Linked DNA regions of Homo sapiens. The protein of the gene in region 1 interacts with the protein of each later gene in a pairwise test. Each region holds a gene or a part of one and is shown on either strand. Other genes may lie near its edges. The genes, in order: ASL and MCMBP.

Region 1 (15,517 bases):
GCTTTGCCAGAAACACCCCAAGTCCAGCCTCTGTCACTCAGCATCTCCGAGCAGGGGCCAGAATAGGGGAGGAGGCCCATGTTGGGTATGACTTGGCCGTGGGAGGTTTCGTTTGAGGACCCTAGAAATAGCTGGGGCTCATTCAAGGGCTGCTCTGAGCAGGTGAGATGCCCTGCACCTCATTCAAGTAGGCAGGGCAGAGGCAGAGGTGCTGTGAGTGATGGTCCTGTTTTCTTGTTGTTTTGTTTTGTTTTTATTTTTAGAGACAAGGTCTCGTTCTGTTGCCCAGACTGGAGTGCAGTGGCATGATCATAGCTCACTGCTGCCTCGATCTCCTGGGCTCAAGCGATCCTCCTGTCTCAGCCTCCTGAGTAGCTGGGACTAAAGGGACATGCCACCATGCCCAGCTAATTTTTAGTTTTTTGTAAAGATGGGGTCTTGTGGCCAGGCGCGGTAACTCACGCCTGTAATCCCAGCACTTTGGGAGGCCGAGGCGGGCAGATCACAAGGTCAGGAGATCGAGACCATCCTGGCTAACACGGTGAAACCCCATCTATACTAAAAATACAAAAAATTAGCCGGGCGTAGTGGTGGGCGCCTGTAGTTCCAGCTACTCAGGAGGGCTGAGGCAGGAGAATGGCATGAACCCAGGAGGCAGAGCTTGCAGTGAGTTGAGATTGCACCATTGCACTTCAGCCTGGGCGACAGAGCGAGACTCCGTCTCAAAAAAAAAAAAAAAGATGGGGTCTTGCTATGTTGCCCAGAGTGGTCTGAAACTCCTGGTTTCAGGCAGTCCTCCTGCCTTGGCCTCCCAAAGGGCTGGGATTACAGATATGAGCCACCATACCTGGCCTGTTTTTTTGTTGTTGTTGTTTTTGAGAAAGAGTTTCGCTCTTGTTGCCCAGGCTGGAATGCAGTGGCGTGATCTCGGCTCACTACAACCTCCACCTCCCAGGTCCAAGAGATTCTCCTGCCTCCCAAGTAGCTGGGACTACAGGTGCCCACCATCACACCCAGCTAATTTTGTGTATTTTTAGTAGAGATGGGGTTTCACCATGTTGGCCAGGCTGGTCTCGAACTCTTGACCTCAGGTGATTCACCCGCCTCAGCCTTCCAAAGTGCTGGGATTACAGGCGTGAGCCACAGCACCTGGCCTGTTGTTTTAAATAAACCAGCTTTACTGAGATATCATTCACAATTTACTCATTTAAAGTTTACACTTTACTGTACAACCATCACCACAACCAATTTTAGAACATTTTCATCACCCCATGAAGAAATTCTGTACTCAAGGCCAGGCACGGTGGCTCAAGTCTTTAATCCCAGCACTTTGGGAGGCCAAGAGGGAAGGATCACTTAAGGCCGGGAGTTTGAGACCAGCCTGAGCCACATAGTGAGACCCTGTTTCTACAAAAAATTTAAAGAATTCGCGGCTGGGCACGGTGGCTCACACCTGTAATCCCAGCACTTTGAGAGTCCGAGGTGGGTGGATCATGAGGTCGGGAGATTGAGACCATCCTGGCTAACATGGTGAAACCCCGTCTCTACTAAAAATACAAAAAATTAGCCGGGCGTGGTGGTGGGCACCTGTACTCCCAGCTACTCGGGAGGCTGAGGCAGGAGAATGGCGTGAACCTGGGAGGCAGAGGTTGCAGTGAGTGGAGATCACGCCACTGCACTCCAGCCTGGGCAACAGAGCAAGACTCTGTCTCACAGGTGGTGCACACCTGTGGTCCTAGCTACTCAGAAAGCTGAGGTGGGAGGATCATTTGAGTCCAGGAGTTTGAGACTGCAGTGAGCTATTACCAAGCCATTGCACTCCAGCCTAGGTGACAGAGCAGGATCTCATCTCTAAAGACAATTTAAAAAGTTAAAAATTTAAAAATTAAGCTGAGCGCAGTGGCTTATGGGTGTAATCCTAGCACTTTGGCAGGCCGACGCGGGCAGATCACCTGAGCTCAGGAGTTCAAGACCAGCCTGGTCAACATGGCAAAACCCATCTCTACTGAAAAAAATACAAAAATTAGCTGGACATGGTGGTGCACACCTGTAATCTCAGCTACTTGGGAGGCTGAGGCACTAGAATCACTTGAACCCAGGAGGCAGAGTTTGCAGTTAGCTCAGATAGCGCCACTACACTCCAGACTAGGTGACAGAGCAAAACCCTGTCTCAAAAAAAAAAAAACAACAACAAACAACAACAACAAAAAATTAAAGAAACCCTGAACTCAGTAGCAGACACTCCCTGTTCCTCCTAGCAGCCCCACACCACCTGCTGGGTGACAATTCTTGTGCCCTTGTTTTCCCCCAAGTCTGCACAACAGGGGTCACAGGGAGTTGAGGAAGAGGAGGGGTCTCTGACAACACATGGAGACTTCTCAGCAGCTCTTCGTCCAGGTCTGCAAGGAACAAATCCAGTCCCAAAGACACCAGGTCCCAGAAGCCAAAGCCTGAAATGAGGCCAGCAGGAGGCAGCCTTTGGCTCTGTCTTTTGCCAGATGGGCTGGATGGGGAGGCGAAGCTTAGGATGGGGGATCTGGGGGACAGGCAGTGTGGGGAGTGACTCTGGCTGCTCCAGGCACAGCCAAGCTAGCTGTGCTTGGCTTAGCTTCCTGCCTTCAAATCTGCAAATGGTGAGTTTTCTTTTTTTTTTTTCTTTTTTTTTGAGACAGGAGTCTCGCTCTGTAGCCCAGGCTGGAGTGCAATGGCGCGATCTCGGCTCATTGCAACCTCCTCCTCCCGGGTTCAAGCAGTTCTTCTGCCTCAGGCTCCCGAGTAGCTGGGATTACAGGCGCACACCACCACATTGCCTAATTTTTGTATTTTTAGTAGAGACAGAGTTTTCCCATGTTGGCCAGGCTGGTCTCGAACTCCTGACCTCAGGTGATCCACCCACCTCGGCCTCCCAAAGTGCTGAGATTACAGGCGTGAGCCACCGCACCCAGCCCCACGAAGGGTTAGTCTTCTCTGCCTGCTGAGCTAGACTGGCATGGGAGTATTGGGGCCTGCAGGAAATGGCCCACTCCTGGCTGCTCTGCCTCGATCCTGGAGTTCTGGGATGCCCCTGTCCCCCAGGGCCTGGCACCCCCACGCTGTTCACCCCTGCCCCCTAGGTCTCCTGTTCAGGCTTCCATCACACCTCTGTCTGCCCCCTGGGTGTCCCTGTAGGACTCACGCCTCTGCCCGATCCACCATGGTCCTAATGAGCTCCCAGAGGAGGCCCGAGAGCGTGGAGCAGGTCTGCCGCATCCACAGCCTGAGGTCTGTGACCACCTGTGCAAGGAGGAGATGGTGCTCAGGGAGGCCGATGTGTTGCTTCCCTGAGGAGCCAGGACCGCTGCAGAACTCTAACTGCCCCCTGGGCTCCTCAAGGTTGGGACAACACGGAGCAGGGGGTGGAGGGGCTAAAGCACCTGGTCATTCCGGCTCCGTCCCGTGTGCAGCTTCCCTGCCGTTGCACCAATGAGCTCCTGGAGGTGAAGGGAGACCCAGGGTCACGGTCTATACCCCCAGAGGAGTCAACCCAGGCAGGGCAGTTTTCCTCATCAGCCCTGCCAACCTACCTCCATACCCCAGGGCTCCGGGTCCTCCCCAAATCTCTCGCCATTTCTGCTGAGGCCTGTTCTTTTTTTCTTTTCTTTTTTTAATTTTTGTAGCTGTGGGACCTCATTATGTTGCCCAGGCTGGTCTCGAACTCCTGGTCTCAAGCAATCCTCCCACCTCAGCCTCCCAAAGTGCTAGGATTATAGGCATGAGCCAGGGTGCCTGGCTCATGTCCTGAGGTCTCACATGCTGTCTGCCAATGGCGAAGTAAACAGAATGGTGCTAATGCTCAAAGTGGCCCTGGGCAAGGTGGAGAGGGGAGGCAAGGAAAGCGGTGGGGCTCCAGGGGTCGTACCTTCAGGCGGCGCTCATTGGCTGTGTGGATGTCCTCATCATTGGAGTTCAGTTTGAAGGTGCCCTGGGCCCACTCCTCAGCCACCTGTAGTGGGTAGCAGCAATGCCGGGGTCAGGTGAGCAGGCATCAGCAGCCAAGAGAGCCCCTGCCTTGGTCCCACCCTATCCCTGGTGACTGACTGTCCCTGCCCAGGAGCTGAGTCCTGGAAGCGCACCCTGGGAGGGGGCATCTCAGGCCCAGCACACCTTTACCCATGAGCCATGTGGGCCACAGGGGTCATTAAAGGATGGAGAGAGGCAGTCATCAAGGCACACAGTTAAACAGCACTTGAGTATATAATTAGTTCAATGTGAAACCACAGATGGGCAACACTGCACTGTTTGCTCAGGGATTTGGTGGGAGCCTGGGGCCACAGGGAAGGGGCCTTGGGTGGGGCTTGGGCCACGGCAAGTACCTTGTCTAGGCCATGGAGTATCTGGTCCATCTCGGCCTTGGTGAGGAGCCCTGCCTTCTCCAGGCCCCTGCTGTAGGCTTTGCTGCCTTGAACATCCACCTCCCAAAGGTGCCGGTCGTAGGCAATGGACGCGTTGAACTTCTCCATGATGGGGTCCACTGCACCCACAAACCGGCCACCCCAAAGCTTCCCACTCTGGCCAGGAGAGCAAGAACAATTAGTCTCTCCTCCACCCTCCAGAACAGTGCTTCTTGCAAAGAGTCTTTGGGAAACTTATCAAGTCTGATGGTAGCAGGGGCATCAGATCATTCTAACTGGGCAGACAAGGAGGCTGAGACCTTCCCAGAGTCACCACCCTGGGAGTGAGCATGGGAACATGGCTGAACACCAAAAGTTTGGGTTCTTTTTTTTTTTTTTTGAGACAGAGTCTCACTTTGTCGGCCAGGCTGGAGTACAGTGGTGCCATCTCAGCTCACTGCAAACTCTGCCTCCCAGGTTCAAGAGATTCTCCTGCCTCAGACTCCCAAGTAGCTGGGATTACAGGCACGTGCCACCACACCCAGCTAATTTTTGTATCATTAGTAGAGATGGGGTTTCACCATGTTGGCCAGGCTGGTCTTGAACTCCTGACCTCAGGTGATCCTCCCATCTTGGCCTCTGAAAGTGCTAGGATTACAGGCATGAGCCACTGTGTGTGGCCTTGAAGTTGGGGTTCTTTCCCACCACATGGCACCCCTCCAAGGAGATGATGGCAGGGCCTGAGACACCCCTGGGACCACAGCAGAACTTCTGGAACCTTTCCCACCACTGACCAAGGTGCTAGGTGCCATCCTAATTGTTGACACAACCCTCTGGGTAGGCACCAATACAATTCCACTATGAAGATGGGGAAACTGAGGCACAGAGCAGCCTGCTCTCACCTGGGGTGGGATAGCCAGGGCTGCGGCCCAGCAGTCTGAAGTCAGAACCTATGCTTTTCACCCCTGTTCCACCAGGGCTTCTGGACTTGGCTCTGGTGTCCAGAACCTTTGCTGCAGGGACAGGCAAAGAGGCCTTGAGGGTCTCCACCAAGCTTAAGTGCCCTGCAACTCTCTCCCTCACAGCTTGGAGCTGGACTAAGATCCCAATTCCTACCACTCCCTTGGCTCTGAAAAGCACCCTGACACCCCCCATTGTCACTGGCCTTCTAGGAGGTCACTGGGTGATCCCTTACTCCCCAGGAGCCAAGGGCAGAGGAATGGTATGTAGGCATCTATGTTTTGTTCGTTTTCTTTGAGATAGAGTCTCACTCTGTTGCCTAGGCTGGAGTGCAGTGGCGTGATCTCGGCTCACTGCAACCTCCACCTCCCGGCTTCAAGCCAATTTTCCTGCCTCAGCCTCCCGAGTAGCTGGAATTTCAGGCGTGTGCCACCACACCTGGCTGAGTTTTATATTTTTAGTAGAGACGGGGTTTCACCATGTTGGTCAGGCTGGTCTCGAACTCCTGATCTCAGGTGATCCCCTGACCTTGGCATCCCGAAGTGCTTGGGATTACAGGCATGAGCCACTGTGCCGAGCCTGTTTTGTTCATTAAAAAAATCTTTTTTAATTCTTTTTTTTTTTTTTTTTTTTTGAGATGGAGTCTCTCTTTGTCACCCAGGCTGGAGTGCAGTGGCAGGATCTTGGCTCACTGCAAGCTCCACCTCCCAGATTCACGCCATTCTCCTGCCTCAGCCTCCTGAGTAGCTGGGACTACAGGTGCCCACCACCATGCCTGGCTAATTTTTTGTATTTTTTTTTTTCAGTAGAGACGTGGTTTCACCTTGTTAGCCAGGATGGTCTTAATCTGACCTCGTGATCTGCCCACCTCGGCCTCCCAAAGTCCTGGGATTACGGGTGTGAGCCACCACACCCGGCCTTTAAATTCTTTTTTAGACACAGGGTCTCACTTTGTTACCCAGGTTGGAGTGCGGTGGCACCATCATAGCTCACTGCAGCCTCAAACTCCTGGTCTCAACCAATCCTCTTGCCTCAGCCTCCCCAATAGTTGGGACTACAAGCATGCGCCACCACACCCAGACATTTTTTTAAAATTTTATAGGACTGGGAGTGGTGGCTCATGCCTGTAATCCCAGCATTTTGGAAGGCTAAGGTGGGTGGATCATGAGGTCAGGAGACAGAGACCATCCTGGTCAACATGGTGAAACCTGGTCTCTACTAAAAATACAAAAATTAGCCAGGCGTGGTGGCACTCGCCTGTAGTTCCAGCTACTTAGGAGGCTGAGGCAGGAGAATCGCTTGAACCCGGGAGGCGGAGGTTGCAGTGAGCCAAGATCACGCCACTGCACTCCAGCCTAGGTGACAGAGCAAAACTCTGTCTCAAAATAAATAAATAAATGAACAAAATAAAATAAAATAAAATAATTGGTAGAGACAGGGTCTCACTATGTTGCCCAGGCTGGTCTTGAATTCCTGGGCTCAAGCTGTCCTCCAGCCTCAGCTTCCCAAAGTGCTGAGATTATAGGCATGAGCCTAGGCGCCAGCCACATCTATGTTTTGAAAGAGGGCAGAGGCCAGGGCATGGGACAGAGTGGGGAGGGGGTACAGAACACCTGGGGAGCAGCCCTAGTGCCCAGGACTGGGAGGAGGGTGGGGTAGAGGTGGGCATGTCACTTCACTGACGTCCTTTTTGTGGAAGGGAGTCTACAATGGCCAATGGGGACATATATCCTCCTCTGTCCCCCTACAATGCCCCAGACTTCTATTAACCACCTGGCCTGGCACCTATTATTAAACCTCAGGGGCTGGGCGTGGTGGCTCACACCTATAATCCTAGCACTTTGGGAGGCTGAGGTGGGCAGATCACGAGGTCAGGAGATGGAGACCATCCTGGCTAACATGGTGAAACTCCGTCTCTACTGAAAACACACACAAAAAAATTAGCCAGGCATGGGGGTGTTGGGCGCCTGTAGTCCCAGCTACTTGGGAGGCTGAGGCAGGAGAATGGCGTGAACCCGGGAGGCGGAGCTTGCAGTGAGCTGAGATCGTGCCACTGCACTCCAGCCTGGGCGACAGAGCAAGACTCTGTCTCAAAACAAAAACAAAAACAAAAACCCTCAGGGTTGGGAGGCCCAGGCAGGTGGATCGCTTGAGGTCAGGAGTTCGAGATCAGCCTGGCCAACATGGTGAAACCTCATCTGTACTAAAAATATAAACATTAGCCAGGCGCGGTGGCAGGAAGCTGTAGTCCCAGCCACTTGGGAGTCTGAAGCAGGAGAATCACTTGAATCCTGGAGGTAGAGGTTGCGGTGAGCAGAGATGGCGCCATTGTACTCCAGCTTGGGCGACAGAGCAAGACTCCTTCTTAAAAATAATAATAATAATAATAATAAGATAAGGATAATAATAGTACCTCTCTGATAGCCTTATTGTGAGCATTTAATCAGATAATATTTGCAAATTGCATACATAACACGGTGCCTGGTGCTCAGGAAGGACTCGAGAAATGCCAGCTGTTACTAAGGGAGGGCTGGCAGGGGATAGGACATGCTTCAGCTCCACTCCTGGTTCCTGTATGCACCCCAGAGACCTCTCCAGTGCTCTGGCCCTGAGCTGTGAGCTGACTCCTCTATGCCCAACAGTCCCGACTGCCAAAGGACTCTGCCCTGCAGAGGCAGCCTCCGCCCCCACCCCATCTTTGAGCTGGTCCTGCCCCTTACCCCACAGCTGCCCCACCAAGCCTAGATCTCCAGCAAAGCACCACGTGGGGCCCTGGTCCTGATCACTGGAGCCAGCCAGTCAGAATTGGGGCCAGCCTGCCCCTCAGCCAGGAGCCTGGCACCGCCTCCCCCAGCGGGCTCCTGGGCCACCCTGCCTAGGTTGTTAGTAATAAAAATAACTACTTAATAAGTGGAGCTGCAGCCAAACCAATTAGTGCCAACCTACAGGAAGGCCTGGGGCAACCTGAGGTCACCTAGAACACTGGGCTTGTTGGAAGCCAGACCACTCTGCTCTAGAACCAAACTCCTATCCTTACTGGCAGGCATAAGAGGACCCCACAGGGAGATCAGAGTGAGGTGCCTCCCCTTGGGCACTGAGGAGAGTGGAGGCCTAGTGTGGTAGCAGAAGGTGCTACTCCAAGCCAGGACACATCTGGGCCAGAATGGTCTCTTCAGGGCCAGGGGATGGGGCACTGAGTTGGGCTGGGTTGAATGAGCAACAGTTAAGGTCGAATGTACATGGGAAATACCAGTTTTGGTTTTGGGACTTGTGGGTTTTTTTTCTTTTTTTGAGGTGGAGTCTTGCTTTGTCGCCCAGGCTGGAGTGCAGTGGTGCGATCTCAGCTCACTGCAACCTCCGCCTCCCGAGTTCAAGCGATTCTCCTGCCTCAGCCTCCCGAATAGCTGGGACTACAGGCACCCACCACTACACCCAGCTAATTTTTGCATTTTTAGTAGAGACGGGGTTTCACCATGTTGGCCAGGCTGGTCTCAAACTCCTGACCTCAGGTGATCTGCCCACCTCGACCTCCCAAAGTGCTGGGATTACAGGTGTGAGCCACCATGCCTGCCAGGTTTTTTTATTTTTATTTTTTTGAAACTGGATCTCACTCTGTTGCCTGGGCTGGAGTGCAGTGGTGAGATCATGCTCACTGCAGTCTCAAACTCCTGGGCTCAAGCAATCCTCATGCCTCCGCCTCCTGTGAGACTACAGGTGTACGCCACCACACCTGGGTAATTTTCAAAATCTTTTTGTAGAGACAGGGTCTCATTACATTGCCCTGGCTGGTCTGGAATTCCTGGGCTTCAGCAGTCCTCCCGCCTCGGCCTCCCAAAGTAGAAATATCAGTATTGTTGTGGTTAGCCACCATTTATTGAGCACCTACTGTTGCTCAGCCCTGTGCTAGGGATTTCACATATGTTATTACGGCCTTTTATGAGGTGGGCAATATTACCCCTATTTCACAAATGAGGAAAGAGGTTTAAAGGGCTCAAGTGACTGGTACAGAAACCAAGTCTGTTTGGCTCCAAAGTCCAGGCCCTACCCCCCTGCCATGACCCAGAAGCTTGCAGGGCACTGAGCTTGCAGGGCATTGAGAAAGAGGAAGTGAATTGCTAGCTAATGAAGGCCAAAAGGGCCTGGAACCCAGACCTCCTGCTTCCCGGAGTTCCCTTCATCAAGCATCAGGCGAACAGCCCCTCTCACCTGAAGGGTCCAAAGCAATGGCCTCATAATCTAGTGCCTTACAGAGTGAGGCCGACAGCTATTATTACCCCCATTGCCAGATAAATCAACTATGGCCCAAGGAAGGAAAACCTCTGCCTGGGAATCCAGCATCTCAGTGGTCAGGAGGAGAGGCCAGGAGCCACTGACCCTAAGAGGCAGGGTCCAGTGAGACAGGAAGGGACCAGGCACCAGGGTTGCTGGAGCCACGAGGCGACGTCCCCTTTTTCCTGGCTCTTTCCACATGCCACAGTCAAGGACAAGAACACTTAGGGGCTGAGCTTTATTCTATAAACAGGGACAATTGCTCTAGCAGGAGAAGGGATGTGGTGTGGGGTGGGACCTGACAGGAGGACACGTGGTAAGAAGGAAGGAAGAGTTGGAAGGCTGAAGGCTTGGGAGCCACTTTTCCTGGCCAGGCAGGCATCACTGTGAGGTGAGGGCAGAGCCACTCTACCCCTAGTAGTGTGGGTTGGTGGGTTTGCCACAAGGGCTGCCTGCGGATACTGGTGAGTCCTGGTAAAGGTGACTGCTGGGCTCCAGATGATGCGCCCGGGAGGGCTGGGGGTGCAGGCTTCCTAGGTAATTTTCAAAATTGCTTCCTGGAGGGCGATTCCCAGCAGGGTGGCCCGAGGCAGGTCTGGCGCCCCCACTCTCTCCTTTGGAGGCTAGGAGGACCGGAGTCCCCGAGGTCCCACTCACCTCCGAGGCCATGTTGGGCGGTTCCTCGTCGTCCGGAAGCTTCGGTCCTCCGGGTCTGGAAGACAAGACCGGACTGACGACCTCCTTGGCCAGCAGGGTCCCCCGGGCCGGGCTGGCTCCGAGTTCTGGGCACTGCGCTTGAGGGAGCGCAGCCCTTGGGGACGCGGACGTGAGCGCGCGCCACGGTGCTCGGCGTCCTCCACGCCCGTCCCGCCCATCCGGCCGCCGCGCACTCACCTCCGCCTGGCCGCACGGATAGTGTCGCGCCCGCCACTGGCCAGGGCTTTTCTGGCCGGGATGGCGTCAGCAGCCGCCGGTCCTGTCCCCACCCCTGGCGACGGCCGCGCCAATAGGAGGCCGCCCGGCGGGGTGGGCGTTGCCTCCATCCTCCAATCCTGGCCGTGGGCGGGGATACCTCCCGCTGAGCTGGAGGCTAAGCGGCCCCGGGGCGGGGAAGCGGGCGGGGAAAGGGTTGGGGGGACCCCGACGGGGAAGGGGCCTGGGCTGGGGTTGAGGAGGGTAGTGCGCTGGCGTTCGTGCTGTGGTCAGCAGACACGCAGGGGACTGGAGACTCGGGCCAGGGGTAGAGGCTATGACATCAGGCCCGGGCCTGGCAGGTTCACAAGATATATAAGGTGAAATGGCATGTTCGCTCATTCACTCATTCATTCATTCATTCAACAAACACGTACCAGGCACCTCTATGTGCCAGGTACAGAGAAAGGCATCAAGGAAAAAGGAAGGACCATCAGAAATGAAGCCTGTGCCAGGCGCGGTGGCTCACAGCTGTAATCCCAGCACTTTGGGAGGCCGAGGTGGGAGGATCGCTTGAGGCTACGAGTTGGAGACCAGCCTGGGCAATACAACAAGATCCCGTCTCTACAAAAAAATTAATAATAATAAAAAAAAAGCCGGGCGTGGTGGTGCACGCCTGCAGTCCTAGCTACTCAGGAGGCTGAGGCGGGAGGAGCACTTGAGCCCAGGAGTTCGAAGCTGCAGTGAGCTATTGTGCCACGGCACTCCAGCCTGACTCCTCTAAAAAAGAAAAGAAACGCGGCCGGAGGCCGGGCGCGGTGGCTCACGCCTGTAATCCCAGCACTTTGGAAGGCCGAGGCGGGTGGATCACGAGGTCAGGAGTTTGAGACCAGCCTGGCCAAGGTGGTGAAACCCCGTCTCTACTAAGAATACAAAAATTAGCCGGGCACGGTGGCGGGTGCCTGCAATCCCAGCGACTCCGGAGGCTGAGGCAGGAGAATCTCTTGAACCCGGGAGGCGGAGATTGCAGTGAGCTGAGATGGTGCCATTGCACTCCAGCCTGGGTGACAGAGCAAGATTCTGTCTCAAAAAAAAAAAAAAAAAAAAAAAGAAAGAAAGAAAGAAAGAAAGAAAAGAAAAGAAAAAAGAAACGCAGCCGGGCACAGTGGCTTACGCCTTTAATCCCAGCACTTTGAGAGGCTGAGGCGGGCGGATCACCTGAGGTCAGGAATTCGAGATGAGCCTGGCTGACATGGTGAAACCTTGTCTCTATTAGCCGGGTGTGGTGGTGGGTGCCTGTAGTCCCAGCTACTCCGACAGCTGAGGCAGGAGAATCACTTGAACCAGGGAGGTGGAGGCTGCAGTGAGCTGAGACGGCACCACTGCACTGCAGCCTGGGCGACAGTGAGACTCTTGTCTCGAAAAAAAAAAAAAAAAAAGAAAGAAAGAAAGAAAAAGAAAAAGAGAAGAGAAAACAAAGAAAGAAACGAAACAAAAGAAATGAAGCCTGACTTCAAGAAGTTCCAACATAGCATGGAGGAGGTGTGCAGGGAGCACAGGCGTTGGGGAGGGGGGCTATGTTGGGTACTCAGGGAAGAGGTCCTTGATCTGATTAATTAATTATTCAACCAAAATGTCAGGCTGGATTCTAGGCACTGGAAGTACCCTGAAGGGGCTTCTAATGAACCTGTCTTCTGCATTGGGTCTTGGAAGATGGGGGGAATTTGCCCAGGGAAGAAGGGGAGAACATTCCAGGCAGAGGGAGAAGTCTGGACAAAAAATGTGACTGGCCTGCTTTAAGAACAGGAAATCATCCAAGTGGCTGTAACTATAACAAAAGGTAGGGAGGAGAGGTGGAAGGAGTTTGGGAGAAGGCTGTGAAGAGTCTTCAATGTCAAGAGAGGGAGTTTGTTCTTGGTCCTATAGGTCATAGGAAACCCCGATCGATTTTAAAATCAGAGGAGCCAAATTTATTTTATTTTATTTTATTTTTATTTATTTTTTTGAGATGGAGTTTCGCTCTTATTGCCCAGGCTAGAGTGCAATGGCACGGTCCCAGCTCACTGCAACCTCTGCCTCCCAGGTTCAAGCGATTCTCCTGCCTCAGCCTTCCAAGTAGCTGGGGTTACAGGCATGCACCACCACGCCTGGCTAATTTTATATTTTTAGTAGAGATGGGGTCTCTCCATGTTGGCCAGGCTGTTCTTGAACTCCTGACCTCAGGTGATCTGCCCGCCTCAGCCTCCCAAAGTGCTGGGATACAGGGGTGAGCCACTGCGCCCGGCTGAAACCCCATGTTAAAAAAGAAAGAAAGGAAGGAAGGAAGATAAATCTAGCTATAGTATTGAGGATGGAATGGAGGGAGAAGAAGAGACCAGTGGCTGGAATGTTTTGTGATTTGAAGGTGTTTAGCCCTCACTCAACTCAAGAGTGGAATTACTTGGAGTTCCCAGAATGCACCTGACTGTTTCAAGCCTTCCTAAATGCTCTTCCCTGTGCCTGGGATGCCCTTCCCTCAGTGTCGGTCTTGCCACCTCCCATTCGTCCATCAGTATTTTTTTTTTTTTTGAGACGGAGTCTCGCTCTGTCCCCCAGGCTGGAGTGCAGTGGCACAATCTCGGCTCAATGCAAGCTCCACCTCCTGGGTTCACGCCATTCTCCTGCCTCAGCCTCCTGAGTAGCTGGGACTACAGGCGCCCACCACCACGCCCAGCTAATTTTTTGTATTTTCAGTAGAGATGGGGTTTCATCGTGTTAGCCAGGATGGTCTCAATCTCCTGACCTCGTGATCCACCCGCCTTGGCCTCTGAAAGTGCTGGGATTACAGGCGTGAGCCACCGCGCCTGGCCTTGTCCATCAGTATTCTAGCCAAACATCATCAATGTCAGGTAGACTCCCAGCTGATCCAGGCATCCAACTCTGGGCTCCCATGTGATCCTGAGTATACGGGCATTTAGCAATCTTTTCCTGATTTGGGAGCACTGTAGTAGTGCCTTCTGGGCCTTCTCCACCACCCAAGTGGTGAGCTCCTTGCAAGCAAAGCCTCATCTGACACATCTGTGTGCCCTGACTCCCAGCCCTCTCCTGTCTTCTCCCACAGAAGCCCTAGAACTGGGCTGCAGCTGACCACTGGGAGGACAGGAAAGACTGTTAGATCAACTGTATGCCGTGTGGTCCTGAAAAATGCCAAAGTGGAGTGGCAAGTCCCGAGATCCAACAGCTAGTGTCTGAGGCCTGGCATCCCTTCCTGGGAGGCCTCGTGTGAAAGTCAGTGGCATTCTGCAGACGTGAGGTCGTACTTCTGAATATCCAGCAAAATACTGGGGCCAAACCCTTTGACAAATGAACTGAGGCTAGAAAGAGAGTTGGAGAAGTGGTTTGACAGCAGAGCTGTAACCACAATACCTAACATGGGTAAGTCACCAGGTGGCAGGCTCTGAGCTAAAATTCATCTCATTGCATCTTCACGACAGTTCTATTTATAGATAAAGAAAGAGAAGCTGGCTGGGATCCGTGGCTCACACCTGTAATCTCAACACTTTGGGAGGCCGAGGCAGGCAGATCACCTGAGGTCGGGAGTTTGAGACCAGCCTGACCAACATAGAGAAAGCCCATCTCTACTAAAAGTACAAAATTAGCTGGGCATAGTGGTGCATGCCTGTAATCCTAGCTACTCGGGAGGCTGAGGCAGGAGATCGCTTGAATCGGGAGGCGGAGGTTGCGGTGAGCCGAAATCGTGCCATTGCACTCTAGCCTGGGCAGCAAGAGTGAAACTCCATCTCAAAAAAAAAAAAAAAGAAAAAGAAAAGAAAAGAAACAGAAGCTGCAAAGGGTTAGGGTTAGGGGTTAGAGGACATGTACACAGGCACCCAGGTAGAAGAGGACAGTCAGTCTGGCTGTCCACAAGACAGAAGAGAGATTGTCAGTCCAGGTTTGTTTGCAACAAACAGCAAGCTTGCAAGCTTGGCATACGTGAAGGCCATGCTGTAGGGATGGGGAAGAGACTCAGGAAGAGGAGAAAGACAGGAAGGCAAGCTGGGCACGGTGGCTCATGCCTGTAGCCCCAGCTACTTGGGAGGCTGAGGCAAGAGAATCGCTTGAACCCAGGAGGTGGAGGTTGCAGTGAGCCGAGATCGTGCCACTGCACTCCAGCCTGGGGACAGAGCGAGACTTGGTCTCAAAAAAAAAAAAAGACAGGAAGGCAGCATAAAGGCTTGCAAAAAACAAAAAATCAAAAACAAATAAACAGAAAGCAGATGAGTCAAAAGTGTCTGCAGCTGAGTCCCTGACAGTTGACACTGAAATGGACGTGAGCCTTTATCTTGACAAAGCATCCTTGGCATTAAAGACTCATAGGAGGGCAGGGCGAAGTGGCTCACGCCTGTAATCCCAGCACTTTGGGAGGCTGAGGTGAACGGATCACCTGAGGTCAGGAGATTGAGACCAGCCTGGCCAACATGGTGAAACTAAGTCTCTACTAAAAACACAAAAATTAGAGTGCGGCCTGTCCTGTCCTTGCCATGAGGCTGCGGCAGGCACCAGAGTCCAGAAAGGTGTTCATTCAGCGAGACTACAGCAGTGGCACAGGCTGCCAGTTCCAGACCATGTTCTCCATGGAGCTGGAGAACCAGATTGATAGGCAGCAGTTTGAAGAAATAGTTCAAACTCTAAATAACCTTTATGCAGAAGCAGAGAAGCTTGGTGGCCAATCATATCTCGAAGGTTGTTTGGCTTGTTTAACAGCATATACCATCTTCCTATGCTTGGAAACTCATTACCAGAAGCTTCTGAAGAAAGTCTCCAAATGCATTCAAGAGCAGAATGAGAAGATCTATGTTCCACAAGGCCTTCTCCTGACAGACTCCATTGAGTAAGGACTGCGAGTTATTGAAATTACCATTTATGAAGGCAGAGGCATGAGCCATGGAAGATAAACCATAGAATTAAAGATCCTACTTCTAGCTGGGCCCCTCATGTATCCATTGGCCGACTGCAGAGTGTCTCTA
Region 2 (15,517 bases), on another chromosome or scaffold:
AAGCTCCACCTCTTGGGTTCAAGCAATTCTCCTGCCTCAGCCTCCTGAGTAGCTGGAATTACAGGCATGCGCCACCACGCCTGGCTAATTTTGTATTTTTAGTAGAGACGGGGTTTCTCCATGTTGGTCAGGCTGGTCTTGAGCTCCCGACATCAGATGATCCACTTGCCTCGGCCTCCCAAAGTTCTGGGATTACAGGCATGAGCCACTGTGCCTGGCCAAGGCAAATTTAACAGTCAGTGGTAAACAGGGATTTACTAATGAATTTTATTTACCCTTATATTACTCTACTTTATAAATTGATATTTCCAGATTTTCTTAATGCTAAGATATATTTTAATGTGTTTAAAATTGGAATGTTTTACTATAAATACATATAAATGTCGTAGTATTCTTTTTCTCCACCGATCCCCAGAATATATTAAAATTAATGGTCTATCATCTAGCCTGGACAGCATGGCGAAACCCCATCTCTACTAAAAATACAAAAATTAGCCAGGCATGGTGGCAGGCGCCTGTAATCCCAGCTGTTTGGGAGGCTAAGGCAGTAGAATCACTTGAACCCAGAGGGGCGGAGGTTGCAGTGAGCTGAGATCATGCCATTGCACTCCAGCCAGAGTGACAGAGAGACTCCATCTCAAATAAATATCATAGTAACTTATATATTGTAATATATTCGAGTGTGTATTTAAGTCCAGGAAATATGTTAATTCTCTTATCACTTAAGCAGTTGATGCTACTTTTTATTTCTTACCATTCTTGTTTGAATGTCTTAATGCAGGCTTTTTATGCATTTGAGTACTTTATTTATATAAAGTAACACTTGTTGGTGTTTAGTCAATGTTTTAGGCTATACATATTTTTAAACTTTTTATTTTGACACAGTATAGACTTACATGCAGTTGTAAGAAATAATACAGAGAGGCTGGTTGCGGTGGCTCACACCTATAATCCCAGCCCTTCAGGAGGCCGAGGCAGGCACATCACTTGAGGTCAGGAGTTCCAGTCTGGCAAACATGGTGAAACCCCATCTCTACTAAAAATACAAAAATTAGCTGGGCATGGTGGTGCACGCCTGTAATCCCAGCTACTTGGGAGACTGAGGCAGGAGAATTGCTTGAACCCGGGAGGCGAAGGTTGCAGTGAGCGCTGATCGCCACCATGCTCCAGCCTGGGTGACAGGGTGAGACTCTGTCTCAAAAAAAAAAAAAAAAAACAGATCTTGTATACCTTTTAGCCTCTACTTCCCCCAGTGGTAATACCTTACGTAATTATAGTAGAATGTCATAACCAGGAAGTGGATATTGATACAATCATTTTTTTTCCTTTTTTTTTTTTTTTTTAGACGGAGTCTTGCTCTGTCACCCAGACTGGAGTGCAGTGGTGCAATCTCTGCTCACTGCAAGCTCCGCCTCCTGGGTTCACGCCATTCTCCTGCCTCAGCCTCCCGAGTAGCTGGGACTACAGGCCCCCATCACCACGCCTGGCTAATTTTTTGTATTTTTAGTAGAGACGGGGTTTCACCGTGTTAGCCAGGATGGTCTCAATCTCCTGACCTCGTGATCCACCTGCCTCAGCCTCCCAAAGTGCTGGGATTACAGGCTTGAGCCACTGCACCTGGCCTGTTCTTTGCAGTTTTATCGCATAGGTAGATTCATGTGACCACCACCACAGTTAAAATCGGGAATATTTCATTACCCAGATCTCTCATGTTGCCCTTTTATGCTCCTAACTACCACTCTCCTGCCTCCTCCGTCCCCAGAAGTCTCTAGACCCTAGCAACCACTGGTCTCTTCTCCATCTCTTATAATTTTGTCATTTTAAGAATGGAATTGTATATTACATAAACTTTGGGGATTGTCTTTTCTTCAGCACAATTCCCTTGAGATCCATCCCAATTGTTGCATGTATCAGTAGTTTGTCCGTTTTATTGCTGAGTGGTGTTTCGTGGTATGGCAGGCTATAATTTGATTCTCATGTTATCAGCCCTAAAGTGTAACTACTTCAGGAGTTGGGGTTATTCTTTTAATGACCTGTATATCCCCAACAACTGGTTTGATTCCTGGTACATACTGGATATTAATAAGTATTTGGTAAATTAATTTATTGCTGTATGGTTTTATTCTGCTTAATTAATAGAAAAAGTATGTTCTACCAAGGAGTTTTGCTGTCGGTAGACCATGTATTCCTTAAATCAAAGATGTCAAAGTAACCATATTGCAAATCAACTTTTGAAACTGGTTATACATGAGATTTGATGGGAGGAATTTGTTGATATCTTACAGTAAGGGAAAAAAAAGTAAAATTTTTAGATCTTCATGTTTATCTTTGTCCTCTTACAGATCAAACAAAAGACTTTGTTAGTATGTGCTGTTTCCTTAAAAACTGTAACAACTTGAACTTTGCAAGCTCAGAAGCATCACGTATATCAAACTTGAAAGGCACTTATGGAATGTTCTTTTTCTCCAGGAGGCCTTAGAAATGACTAAGTGCAATGCTATCCTTTGAATTTAGGGAGTGTTGGTGGTCTTCAATGGTGTGGAGAGCCAAAACGTTTAGAAACTGAAGCTTCTACTGGGCAACAGCTGAACTCTCTGAACTTGTCTTCTCCTTTTGATTTGAATTTTCCATTGCCAGGAGAGAAGGGCCCTGCATGCCTTGTGAAGGTAATAAAACCTTTCGTAGATCCAACACTGAAATGTTATGTGTCTCAGAAAGTAGCTTAGTGTCTGAGCATTTGCATTTGTTCCCTTGTGCTGGGCTAGCTATAGCAAATCACTGCAAATTTAATAGCCTAAAGCAGCAAAAGTTTATCATCTTACAGGCTTTAGGTCAGAAATCCAACATGGTCTCACTGGGGTAAACTCGAGGTGCCAGCAGGGCTACATTCCTTTCTCGGAGCCCCTAAGGGAGAATTTCCTTGGCCTTGTGGCTCCTTCTTCCATATTCATAGCCAGCAACATTGCATTTGTCTGACCATTTTTTTCATGTTGACATCTCATCTGACCACAACCAAGAAAGTTTCCCCAATTTTAAGAATCCGTGTGATTACATGGGGCCCAGCCAGTTAATCGAGGATAATCCCCCCCATTTCAAGGTTATTAATTTAATCACACCTGCACATTCCTTTTGCATGTAAGCTAACAAGTTAAAAGAATCGAAGAACATCTCAAATGCAGAAGCAGAACAACTTTTAAATTATGTCTGTTCCCTTCCTGTATCATTTCTAACATAATATCTTCTTCATTTTTGTCTTCTTCCTTCTCTCAGCAAAACCTATTTTTCACTTATATTTAAAATAAAACAGAAGGAAGAAAACTTTTAATAGTTTGTTCTTCCATCTTACTTATTCTAGTGTTTTGATCCTGATAAATGAGCAAGTGATAGAAGGTTCAGAAATGATTGTTAAGGATTTCTATCCTTATTCTTTGTGCATTTTGGGTTTTTTTGTTTTTGGGGGGTTTTTTTGTTTGTTTTTTTGAGGCAGTCTCACTCTCTTGTCCAGGCTGGTGTGCAGTGGCACGATCTCGGCTCACTGCAACTTCTACCTCCTGGGTTCAGGCAATTCTCGTGCCTCAGCCTCCTGAGTAGCTGAGATTACAGGCATGCACCACCACACCCAGCTCGTTCTTTATATTTTTTGTAGAGATGGGGTTTCACTATGTTGGCCAGGCTGGTCTCGAACTCCTGACCTCAAGTGACCCACCCACCTCAGCCTCCCAAAGTTCTGGGATTCCAGGGGTGAGCCACTGCACCCAGATTCTCAGTGGTTTTAACTGAAATGACACTTAAGTCATATGGCACAGGGACCAAAATTACCATTTTTTCCCCTGCCTTGCTTCTACCAGGTCTAATCAGTAAATGGCCTTGACTATTACTAAGTCCATCATGACAGACAATTTTGAAAGGTTTTTTTTTTTTTTTAAATTGTGAAAAATCTTCTGGCCATTCCAAGTTTTGTGTTAATCCGATGTTGCAGTTTATGAATAAATGCAAAGTTAATCATCTTGTTTTTGTTTTTTCCTTTTCTTGGTGTGGTTTAATAGGTTTTGAGATAGTGCACAGTTCTAGTTTTAACTGTCAGCCTTTGGGAAAAGGCTTTTTTTAATTTTAGGAAAAGCCTTTTTTTTTTGTAGTACTGTGGTATATTGAAAACAGACATTAGTCTGGAAGTTAGGCATCCTGTGTTTTGGTTTTTCACTTATTTGCTAACTAGCAGAATGACTCTTGGTCTCAATTTATAAAAATTTATAAAATAAAGGACTTGCTTTAAGGTCTGTTTCCTGATCTAAAATTCCAAGATATTGGTACTTCAAGACTAATATCTTAAGCTTTGTGTCTGTTCTAACAGTGTGATTTCATGTGGTCTCTTGTTAGGTTTATGAAGATTGGGATTGTTTCAAAGTAAATGACATTCTTGAGCTATATGGCATACTGTCTGTGGATCCTGTGCTGAGTATACTGAATAATGATGAAAGGTGAGTCTGTGTGCTCTTTTTTTGGTCTCCTTTATTTTTATATAATTTCAAGTTTTCAGGAGAGTTACAGGATGGTTTTAAAGAACTCCCTTTTCCCTTTCTCCCAGATGTACCAGTTGTAAACACTTGCACCCCATGTGTTTTGTCATTCATTTGTGCTCTCTATGCACACATTTTTCTGAAACACTTGAAAGTATGTTGCAGAAATCAAGCCCTTTTACCCCTAACTGCTTGTCAACATTTCCTAAGAGTACTGACTTTCTCATATATAATTAGAGTACAGGTATCAAAACTAGGAAATTTGCCACAAATATACAATACACTAATCCACAATCTATACTTAATTTCACTAATTGTCTTAATCATGTTCTTTCTTACACGTCTCCCTTCTGCATCCCCCAGTCCAGGGTTCAGAAGCTCGCTCATTCTCTATTTCTACTGAGTTCATACTGTATTTCTGATTCCAGTTCAGCACCACAGGTGTCGTTCTGCTTGTTCTCCTTTCTGTATTAGTGTAACTCTCTTAAACTTGATTCCCATTTTTCACAATCTTATCATTTGCACATTTTTACAACATAGAGAAGGGAATTTCAGAATTGTTAACTCATACCTTTACAAAACATAAACCTAAATAACTAGAGTTCAATCTGAAACAGTCCTCAGCCTTTGTCTTTCATGGTCTTGCCACTTTTTTTTTTTCCTTAAACAACAGAAATATATGTCTTCCAGTAGTTCTGGAGGCTGGGAAGTCCAAAATCAAGTTCCCAGCAGATCTGGTTTCTAGTGAGGGCCCGCTTCCTGGTTTACAGATGGCTGTCTTCTCACGTGGTAGAGAGCAGACAGCCTTGATGCTTTTGAAGAGTGTAAGCCAGTTACCAGTTACTTGTTTCCTCATGGTTAGACTCAATGTTTTGCATTTTTGGCAGGAATATTACAGAATTGATGTATCCTCAGTATGTTACAGCAGGAGGCATGCGATGTCAGTTTGTCCCTTTACTGGTGAGGTTAATTTTCATTAGTTGGTTAAGGTGGTGACTTCCAGATGTCTCTTCTGTAAAGTTACATTTCTCACTTTGTAATTGACAAGTAACTTGGAGGAAGGTACTTGGGGACATAAATATCCAGTTTCTCATTAAACTTTCACCAATTTATTTTAGCATTCATTGATGATTCTTGCTTGAATCAGTTATTACTTTGTTGGCAATTTTCTAACGCAGTACATTTATTTATTGGCATTCTACTATAAAAGATACCTCTTCCATTTGTTTATTCAAGTAATGTATTTACTTATATTTAGTATAGACTAATAGATTCTGATTTTATTCAATGTTAATATCATTATTTTATTTCGAGACCCAAATTTTCCCAGATTTGGCTAGTGGGAGCCACTTTAAGCAGGTGCCGGGTCCTTTTTTTGAGATGATGTTATCATTTTTTAACATTTATTTTCTGGCATATTAAGCTGTTGCAGCTTCATCGTATGCTTTGAAGATCTGAGTCCTAGATGTGCTCGTTGGTACTGGATTAGATTTGCATCTAGGCCCTTAAAGTAGACAGAGCTAGGATACATGCAGCATATGGATACATATATACGCACCCACATTTAAATGCACACATACACACTCACATGCATGTTTTGTGTATTTCTAATGTCTGTGAAAAACCATGGGTTCATATTTCTGATTCCAGTTCAGCACAGCAGGAGTCACATGTTCTAGTTGTTCTCCTTTCTATATTTATGACTTCTTTTTCTAACAAATTTGATTCCCATTATTCACAATCTGTTGTTTCCCCATTTCTACCATATACAGAAGGGAATTTCAGAATTGGTAACCCATACCACTACAAAACAGAAACCTAGTAATTAGAGTTCAATACATTTCCAGTTCATTTTTATTTTAGAATGCAGCTGTGTAGTCAGAGCTATGTTCCACTTACTCAGGTAACTTTTCTTCCCCTTCAGTGTGATTTCATTATTTATTTTACTTAGAAAGATTCTCAGAGGTGTCATTCTCGGCTATCCCCATTCCTGCTGTCTGTTCCCACCCAGCCTCCTTAGGGAACCACAGTTTCTGGTTTATCCTTCCTGTATTTATTTTTTTACAAAAATATGAAGATACGTATACATTTTATTTCTACCTTTTTCTTCTATAAAAGGTAACATGGTATATATACTCTTACACTTTTTAATTTTTTTTATTAACAACATATCTTGGAAATCTAGACCTTCCTCATTCATTTTTGTTTTGTTTTGAGATTGCCAAAAGCAAGGGCTGATGTCCCTCATCTACACCAGAGTCCTCTTGTTGAATACCGGACATTAATCATCTTAGTTTCTGTGTAGGATGAACTTAACATTTTTCACAGTTAAAAAAAAATGGTACAAAACAAAAATTTTAAACAACTTTAAATAAGCTTAACCGTCCCTTAATAATAGTATATGAGATTGTTCATCTTGGCAATTTCTGATTGTGATGACTTTCCTGCTTTAGTTACTTCACTATTGATGTAGTTTAGTTTAGAGGTTGTATTAGGGGTCTCTAAAGGGTCAGAACTGATAGGATAGATGAATATATGAAGGGGAGTTTATTAGGAGAATGACTCACATGATCACAAGGTAAAATCCCACAATAGGCTGGGGAGCAAGGAAGCCAGCCTGAGTCCCAAAATCTCAAAAGTAGGGAAGCCACCAGTGTAGGCTTCAGTCCGTGGCTGAAGGCCTAAGAGCTCCTGGTGAACCACTGGTGTAGGTCCAAGAGTCCAAAAGCTGAAGAACTTGGAGTCTGATGTTTGAGGGCAGGAAGCATCCAGCATGAGAGAAAGGTGGAGGCGGAAGACTCAGCCAGTCTGCTCTTTACATGCCTGCCTTTATGCTGGCAGCTGATTAGATGCTGCCCACCCAGACTGAGGGTGGGTCTGCCTCTCCCAGCCCGCTGACTCAAATGTTAATCTCCTTTGGCAACACCCTCACAGACACATCCAGGAACAATAATTTTCATCCTTCAATCCAGTCAGATTGACAAAGTATTAACCATCACAGAGGTTAAGAGCACAGACAGGCAGGCAGCCTGGGTTGGAGTCCTGACTTGGCCACTTACTAGCTATGTCACCTTGGGCTTGGTTTCCTCATTGTAAATAAGGGTAGATGTGAGGTTTTGGTGAATTTGTACGTGTAAGGCATTGAACGTTGTCTGTCACATGGTACGTACTATGGAAAAGGTTATTATGCTTGTATTAAAAAATACAGGAGTATGAATTTATTACTTCAGTGTCTATAGATTCTATAAAGTCAAGATCTAAAAGATTAGCTATTTGTTTTGGTCGTCTCACAAATCTATCATCTGCAGATTTATTTAGCAAGTCTGAAAAATTCATACTTTCATTGCTTGTCTACTCAGTCTTCGAGGGATCATGTAAGAATTAAATTTAGGAAAAACAATTAGCAAGATAAGAGATGAATGGATTCTCCACACGCTGAATAATAGATACCAGATGGCTTTTGAGAAAAAGACCCCAGTTTTTGAGATCTGCTGTCAAGTATTCGATGTCCCGGCCAATAGTTCAAGGAGTACCTGTGTTTTGAAATAGCCTTATGAGTGACATCCTACATTCCATTTATTGAAGTGCTGAATAACAAATATTATTGTTTCTGGCCAGGCATGGTGGCTCACGCCTGTAATCCCAGCACTTTGAGAGGCCAAGGCAGGCAGATCACTTGAGGTCAGGAGTTCGAGACCAGCCTGGCCAACATAGTGAAACCCTGTCTCTACTAAAAATACAAAAATTAGCCAGGCATGGTGGTGTGCACCTGTAATCTCAGCTACTCAGGAGGCTGAGGCATGAGAATCGCTTGAACCCAGGAGGCAGAGGTTGCAATGAGCCAAGATCGCATCACTGCACTCCAGCCTGGGCAACACAGTGAGACTCCATCCAAAAAAAAAATAAAAATAAAAATACCGTTCTTGAAAAATTGAATAAATGCATTATTTCATGATATGTCTTAACAAGCCTGAAGTCTGTGTGATGTAACACTTTAGAATGAGAGGCCACTTTCTGTTCTTTAAGGAGATGTACAGGTGGAAATATTCTTGGCTTTAACTCTAATTTTGTTTTCCAAGATGCACATTATTTTTGCATCTGTGCAATTGATGTCTCTCTAAATTGAAACTTTATCACCTCTCCACAGGGATGCCTCTGCACTGCTGGATCCGATGGAGTGCACAGACACAGCAGAGGAGCAGAGAGTACACAGTCCTCCTGCTTCATTAGTGCCGAGAATTCATGTGATCTTAGCCCAGAAGTTGCAACACATCAACCCATTATTGCCTGCCTGCCTTAACAAAGAGGAGAGCAAAACCTGTAAGTGTAAGTGTTACAGCCTAGTCAACTATCGACTGTTAGCCTCAGTGTGTCCAGAGCTGCCTGTAACGTGCTCATAGTGGAATTGAGAGTCAGGTCTTCATTCCTCACAATAAGTGTTTTCAGTAATCTCTCTCTCGTTGCCCCATTTTTCTCTTACATTAATTCTCTTCACTGAAATGAGGACAAAAGAGTATACAAGGCTGGGTGCAGTGGCTCACGCCTGTAATCTTAGCACTTTAGGAGGCCAAGGTGGGTGGATCACCTGAGGTCAGGAGTTCGAGACTAGCCTGGCCAATATAGTGAAACCCTGGCTCTACTAAAAATACAAAATTAGCCAGGTGTGGTGGCGTGTGCCTGTAATCCCAGCTACTCGGGAGGCTGAGGCAGGAGAACTGGAGGCAGAGGTTGCGGTGAGCTGAGATGGCACCATTGCACTCCAGGCTAGGCAAAAAGAGCAAAACTTGGTCTCAAAAAAAAAAAAAAGGAGGATGCAAACTGCCTTATTTTTAAGATTAGCATCACTTACTGACGGATATGTTAAGCTTTACCTACTGTCGACTGAATTGTGCTTTGCTCACGTAGTTATTTTTTTACCTAAGACACTTGAGAGGAACTGGAGTGTGTGTCCTGACTCAGGTCTTCCTTTCTCCTTCAGTTGTTTCAAGTTTCATGTCCGAATTGTCTCCAGTCAGAGCAGAACTTCTTGGGTTCCTTACTCATGCCCTTCTGGGGGATAGTTTGGCTGCTGAATACCTTATATTACATCTCATCTCCACAGTGTAAGTGCTGTATCCTGGTGGGAATTAGGGGAGTTTGGTGTGTGTGGAAGTGGAAGAGCGGGAAGATTGCTGGTGTCATTTGTGTGTTTTCCTTATTGGGCTTCATCACATGGTTTTTATCTGTCCAGTGTTAACTGTTATACCAAATCACAGACAAATTCCTTTTCTCACAGTTCACATTTAGCATTTTGATTATGTCCCCTTAAATTTTAGAGCCAAAATCAGATAAAGCAGTGGTCCCCAACCTTTTAGGCACCAAGGACCCATTTCATGGAAGACCATTTTTCCATGGACCGGAGTGGGGATGGTTTCAGTATGAAACCGTTCCACCTCAGAACATCAGGCATTAGTTAGATTCTCATAGGGAACACACAGATGTGCAGTTCACAATAGGGTTCGCGCTCCTGTGAGAGTCTGATGCCACTGCTGATCTGACAGGAGGCGGAACTCAGGCGGTAATGCCCACTCATCCACCCCTCACCTCCTATGTTGTGGCCCGGTTCCTAACAGGCCATGAACCAGTACTGGTCCACGGCCTGGGCGTTGGGGACCCCTGAGATAAAGGACCTGGCTGATGAGTAAAATGAGCTGTTTTATCCCTTTTGCATTCTGAACGCTCTGTTTATACATCCCAAGGCGCCCACGTCATGTGCACGTTTAACGTGGACATTGACACTAGCACCGCATCCCTTGACTCCACTGTATTTCTTTGTTTCTCATTTTAAAACTAGTGTGGGCCTTTGACAAGTTCCAAGAACATAAGGAGGAAAATGCACATCATCTGTAATTTCACCACTTAGAACCTCCGTTAACCTTTAGGTACATGTTCATTGGTTTTTGTTTACATATGTATACATCCTTGCATAGGTCTTAGTTACACTCTAAGCACAGATGCGTGTCTTGTTTTCAGCAGTTGATATATATTAAACATTTTCCCATCATAATGCTTCATGAACTTTGTAGTGGCTGCAAAGTATTTCACTATGCAGTTGTACCATACTGTAACCATTTCCCTAAATGTTAGCTTTTCCTAGCTTTTCTCTATTATAAAGTTGCAGGAAACATCTTTGTGCTGTAAATCTTATCTTTTCTCAAATCAGTCTGTGACAGTAGTACATAATGGTTGAGAGCACAGGCTCTGGAACCAAACTACCCGGATTCATATCCCAGCTCTGTCAGCTTCCATTTAGATGAACATGTTGCTTATTATCATCTCTGTGCCTCGGATTTCTCATCTGTGAAGCAAAGACAACAGCACCTACCGCTGAATGGTTAGGGGTTAAATGAGGAAGCATTTACATACTCAGAACGGTCTTTGGCACGTGACCAGCAGCACTTACGTACAAATATTGGCTATTACTTTTATTGCTGTTATTCTGATAAAATAACTGGTCAGAATATTCTGGTTTATTTTTAATGACAATATTAAGCTAATTTTTCTATTCTTCGCTATTTGATAGAAATCAGGAAGTCACTTCAGCATCTTATTGATTGATTTCTTTCTTTTCTAGATATACAAGAAGAGATGTCCTTCCACTAGGAAAATTTACAGTTAACTTGAGTGGTTGCCCACGGAATAGTACCTTCACAGAACACTTGTATCGAATTATTCAACATCTTGTTCCAGCAGTAAGATGAATATAAATATGTATTATAAACCTAAGCACACTTAAAAAATCCATCTAACTGTCTTTCATTCACTTCAAATATTTAACTTAGAGATTTTAATAGATCTTATTTAAGGGGAAACAAAGCCTGCCAAATTACATAATTTAAAATGTACGTTCCCCTAAACATTTCACTTTTTTTTGTCTTTTTGCCTAAGCACAAATTTCTGTAAGTCTAACAAAACAATTGTAGTAACTCCCTTAAAATTACACTCTCTTGATACCAATTTGTCCAATTTGGTATCCTTTTTGTACACTAAAGTCTTAAATCTAAATAAACTCTAAATTGTAGGAGCATAATTCTTTTAGTTGAGGTAATAAAGTTCTTTATCTCCATTGCCTCAATTTTAATTCCTGTTTGGAAAGTTGAGCTCACTTTATTTGCCAGGGTATCTGGAATGCAGTATTTGCGTGGTGGTAGGATCTTGGGAACAGGGGAATTGCTTCTGATTAGTTGTGTGACTGAAAATACTGATCACTTCTTTGGAAATTGAAGAGGGTGCACTAGATCTTTATTGAACCGAATGTATTCAGTGTCTCAGTGCTAACACTCGTCCAGGCCCTCAAGAAGCAGAAGTGGACTGGAATATACCAGCAGTTCTCAGTCTCCTTAGACTCACTTTACACTCTGAAAAATGTGTTCATACTCAAAGAGCTGTTTTTCACGTTATGATTATATTTATCATTAATTTACCAAACTAGAAGATAAAGTAAATACACCTATTAAAAATAAAAAATTACATATAAATATTTTTATAAAAACAACTTTTCCCAAGCCAAAAATGATTAGTGATAAAGGTGACATTGTTTTACATTCTTGCAAATCTCTTCAATGTCTGGATTAATAGGAGACAATGGATGCTTGTATCTGCTTCTGCCTTCAGTCTATTGTAGTCTCAGGTTTTGGTTGAAGTATATGAAGGAAAGCTGGCCTCACACAGATGGAAAAGTAGATGGTAAAGGAAGGATGGTTTCGATAGCCTTTGCAGATAACTGGGTGGTGGTCTTTGATACTAGACCAAAACTGTCCACATGAGATTTTCTTAAAGATAGTTAAGTGTGGAATCTGAAATCCTATTCGTAAACTTTCCATAGTCTGCTATGGTAAAATTCATTAGTCTCGCACATTGAAAGGATCTTTTATCCATGCATGATTTTGACCTGATTGACCCTGTAAAAGGGTTTAAGCAATTCCCTGGGGGTTCTCGGGACCACATTTTGAGAATTATTGAAACAGATCCTTTGCCCTCACAGAGTTTAGGTAGAAGACCAACAAATAAATTAATACATGGTAGGTCATTTAAGCACCCCTAAGCTCCCCGTTTTCTTAGAATCACTGAGGTAATACACAAAACTCCTCTAAATTTTCGCAATATATCTTACCTCTTCCTTGACAGCCTTCCCCCACCATACCCTCTTCTCCATCCCTGCCACATTGTTTGAGGCTGGAGGGATGGAAGAATGGATTGGTGTATAAGGCAGAGCACAGAGGGTGTTGGGAATGGTGGCTCAAGAGCTGGAGGAGGAGCATAGATGGTTCGCTTACTCGTTAAACACTGAGTGAGAAGGTGCTCGCGTCCTGGAGGCACCTCCTGAGAGCTGCAGGTCCATCCACAGCTCAGTGTGCTCTGCTCCTTGATTTTTCTCTGAAAAGTTTGTTCAAAAATGTCTATGATAAATGAATACAATTTTAACTCAAAGAATATAGAGGAAAATTAAGCTTTTCTCTCCCTGTCTTGAAGAGTAAAATTAACATTTTCTTTTTGCTAGCTAGCTTGTGTTAGGTGAAAGAGGTTAGGTTTTGGGGTATTTAATATTTATATGTCAGTTATCTACCATTTGTTTCATTGGTTAAATTAAAATTGATTTTCAAGAATATTGAACAAGACATTTGAGAATAAAGTAGCTCATAAAATGGATGAAATTCAAATGTAAGATCTAGATACTATTTTTGCTTCTGGAGTTCAAGAAACCATATCACTACTCCCTTAGAAATTTATAAGATCACTTTTTCCATATGAAACACAATGTTTAATTCCAAGTACATATTTTCTTAAAACAGGGAAACTTAAATTCTTGTTCACTAAAAAATTTCTCTTTGCAGTCTTTTCGTCTGCAGATGACTATAGAGAACATGAACCATTTGAAATTCATTCCCCACAAAGACTACACAGCCAATCGCTTGGTCAGTGGGCTCCTCCAGCTGCCCAGCAATACTTCCCTTGTAATCGATGAGACTCTCCTGGAACAGGGGCAGCTGGATACCCCAGGTACGTACATAGATGTTTCTCTTCCATTTCTGACTTCCTTCGCACTAAAGCCAGATCTAGGAATAACTTTTAGAAGAGTATCTATGGACAAATTCACATTTAACAACGTAAGATAAAGGCTTGGCATATGAATTTGATTAAAGCATATGTTATAAACTAATTATATACACCAACTATGTTTTGCCATAGTATTCTGAAAGTAGTACAATGGAACAGATATATATCTTATATAATATATCTTATATAATATATATCATATATAATATATAATGTCTCATTTAATATATATCATATATTATATATTTTATATATTATATAATGGAGCAATAATATAAAGGGTAGTATTAGTATAATGGAGCAGTAATATAAAGGGTAGTATTAGATGTTGAGGGTCGTAAGGGTTCTTTGGTGAAAAGTTTTATTGTGTCAGCGAATGGTTGGAGCAGTCTTTATGGGCCTACAGTGTTGGGTTCTTTTGCGTAGTTGTATATAACCTAAAATTTTTTTTTCAGTGAGTGTAAGGAATGGTAGAGACAGGGTCTCGCTATGTTGCCCAGCTGATCTTGAATTCCTGGGCTCAAGTGATCCTCCTGCCTTGGCCTCCCACAGTGCTGGGATTACAGGTGTGAGCCACTGCACCTGCCCCAAATAGCTTTTTAAAAAGCTGAAATGGGAGGAAGCTTTGCCTTTAGTCATCTAATACCTCAAAAGGGAAGTGTAGAAAAGATCTAATATAATTTTTTTTTTGTTTTGAGACGGAGTCTTGCTCTGTCGCCCAGGCTGGAGTGCAGTGGCCAATCTTGGCTCACTGCAACCTCCAACTCCCGGGTTCACACCATTCTCCTGCCTCAGCCTCCCGAGTAGCTGGGACTACAGGCACCCGCCATCACGCCTGGCTAATTATGTTTTAACCTCCCGTTGTAAAGTTTGTAAATGGTTTTCAGAGAATGTCTGAGAAATAATAGATCAAATGGTTTGCACTAACCTCAGTTGCGGAATATATTATAAAATCACAAGAAAGCAGATTGTTTACCAGTGCTCAAATGAAGACAATTAAGAATACACTGCTGGCGATCAGCTCAAGAGGTAAAGGTAGAAGAAAAAATGAGGTAGACTGGGCATGTTTAAGGCAAAGGGGAATATAAAATCTGTAAAATTCACTAGGCTGATCTATGTATGACGGTAGTTTTAGTGTTTCCTTGGTTTAGCCCTGTAAATACACCACTTAGAAATAATCATACTTGGGAACTATTTTATGTCTAGGTGCATACCAGATGCTAGGTATTAGATTTGCGGGGGTATCGCCTGCCCCCAGAAAGTTCTACCTTGACCAAGACTGTTGTAAGCCTACACACTTAGTGACGTTTAGCTTAGTAAACTGGACAGCGCCTCATACCCTTTATTAAAAGTGGTAGAAACTTCATGGCTCATCATCGGTGTCAGCAAAACTGATGTGTTTAGATGATTAAAGTCAAATGACTGAAAGTGTTTTCCTGCCTTTGTAGGTGTTCATAATGTGACAGCCCTGAGCAACCTCATAACGTGGCAGAAGGTGGATTATGACTTCAGCTACCATCAGATGGAATTCCCCTGCAATATTAACGTTTTCATTACTTCGGAGGGGAGGTCACTCCTCCCGGTATGATGAGTCATTTTTAAATGGAGGGAGGTTGACATTGGAAAAATACCTACATTTTTGCTGTTTCTTGGTACCGCTTATTAATAAGTTACATTTGTTGTAAAAAAAAAAAAAAAAAAAAAAAAAAAAAAAAAAAAACTGTGACTGCTGATCATTAAGGGAATTGAGTATTTTGCACTGCCATGGATGAAAACCTTACATCTACCAAGCTCAGGTATCAGCAAGTCATGAGACCAGCAAGGCTGTTGGCAGCAGAAACACCCACATCTGAGCATAGCGAGATTGCCTGATTTTAACATCCAGACTTCTGTTCTTGCTACCT

What was found.
Region 2: the proteins of ASL (region 1) and MCMBP interact in binary tests that used the Homo sapiens proteins (3 or more experiments, as listed by UniProt).

The regions. Positions count from the first base shown.
Region 1 is NC_000007.14:66,070,833-66,086,349, reverse strand, and holds the start of ASL (argininosuccinate lyase), read right to left. Parts: upstream 10,532-15,517; 5' UTR 10,494-10,531; exon of another isoform or gene 10,312-10,493; 5' UTR 10,269-10,311; coding exon 10,257-10,268; intron 4,548-10,256; coding exon 4,353-4,547; intron 3,983-4,352; coding exon 3,899-3,982; intron 3,471-3,898; coding exon 3,414-3,470; intron 3,274-3,413; coding exon 3,176-3,273; intron 1-3,175.
Region 2 is NC_000010.11:119,836,574-119,852,090, reverse strand, and holds part of MCMBP (mini-chromosome maintenance complex-binding protein), read left to right. Parts: intron 1-2,514; coding exon 2,515-2,666; intron 2,667-4,377; coding exon 4,378-4,478; intron 4,479-8,664; coding exon 8,665-8,837; coding exon of another isoform or gene 8,838-8,843; intron 8,844-9,495; coding exon 9,496-9,619; intron 9,620-11,130; coding exon 11,131-11,248; intron 11,249-13,390; coding exon 13,391-13,556; intron 13,557-15,061; coding exon 15,062-15,195; intron 15,196-15,517. UniProt on the Homo sapiens protein: Associated component of the MCM complex that acts as a regulator of DNA replication.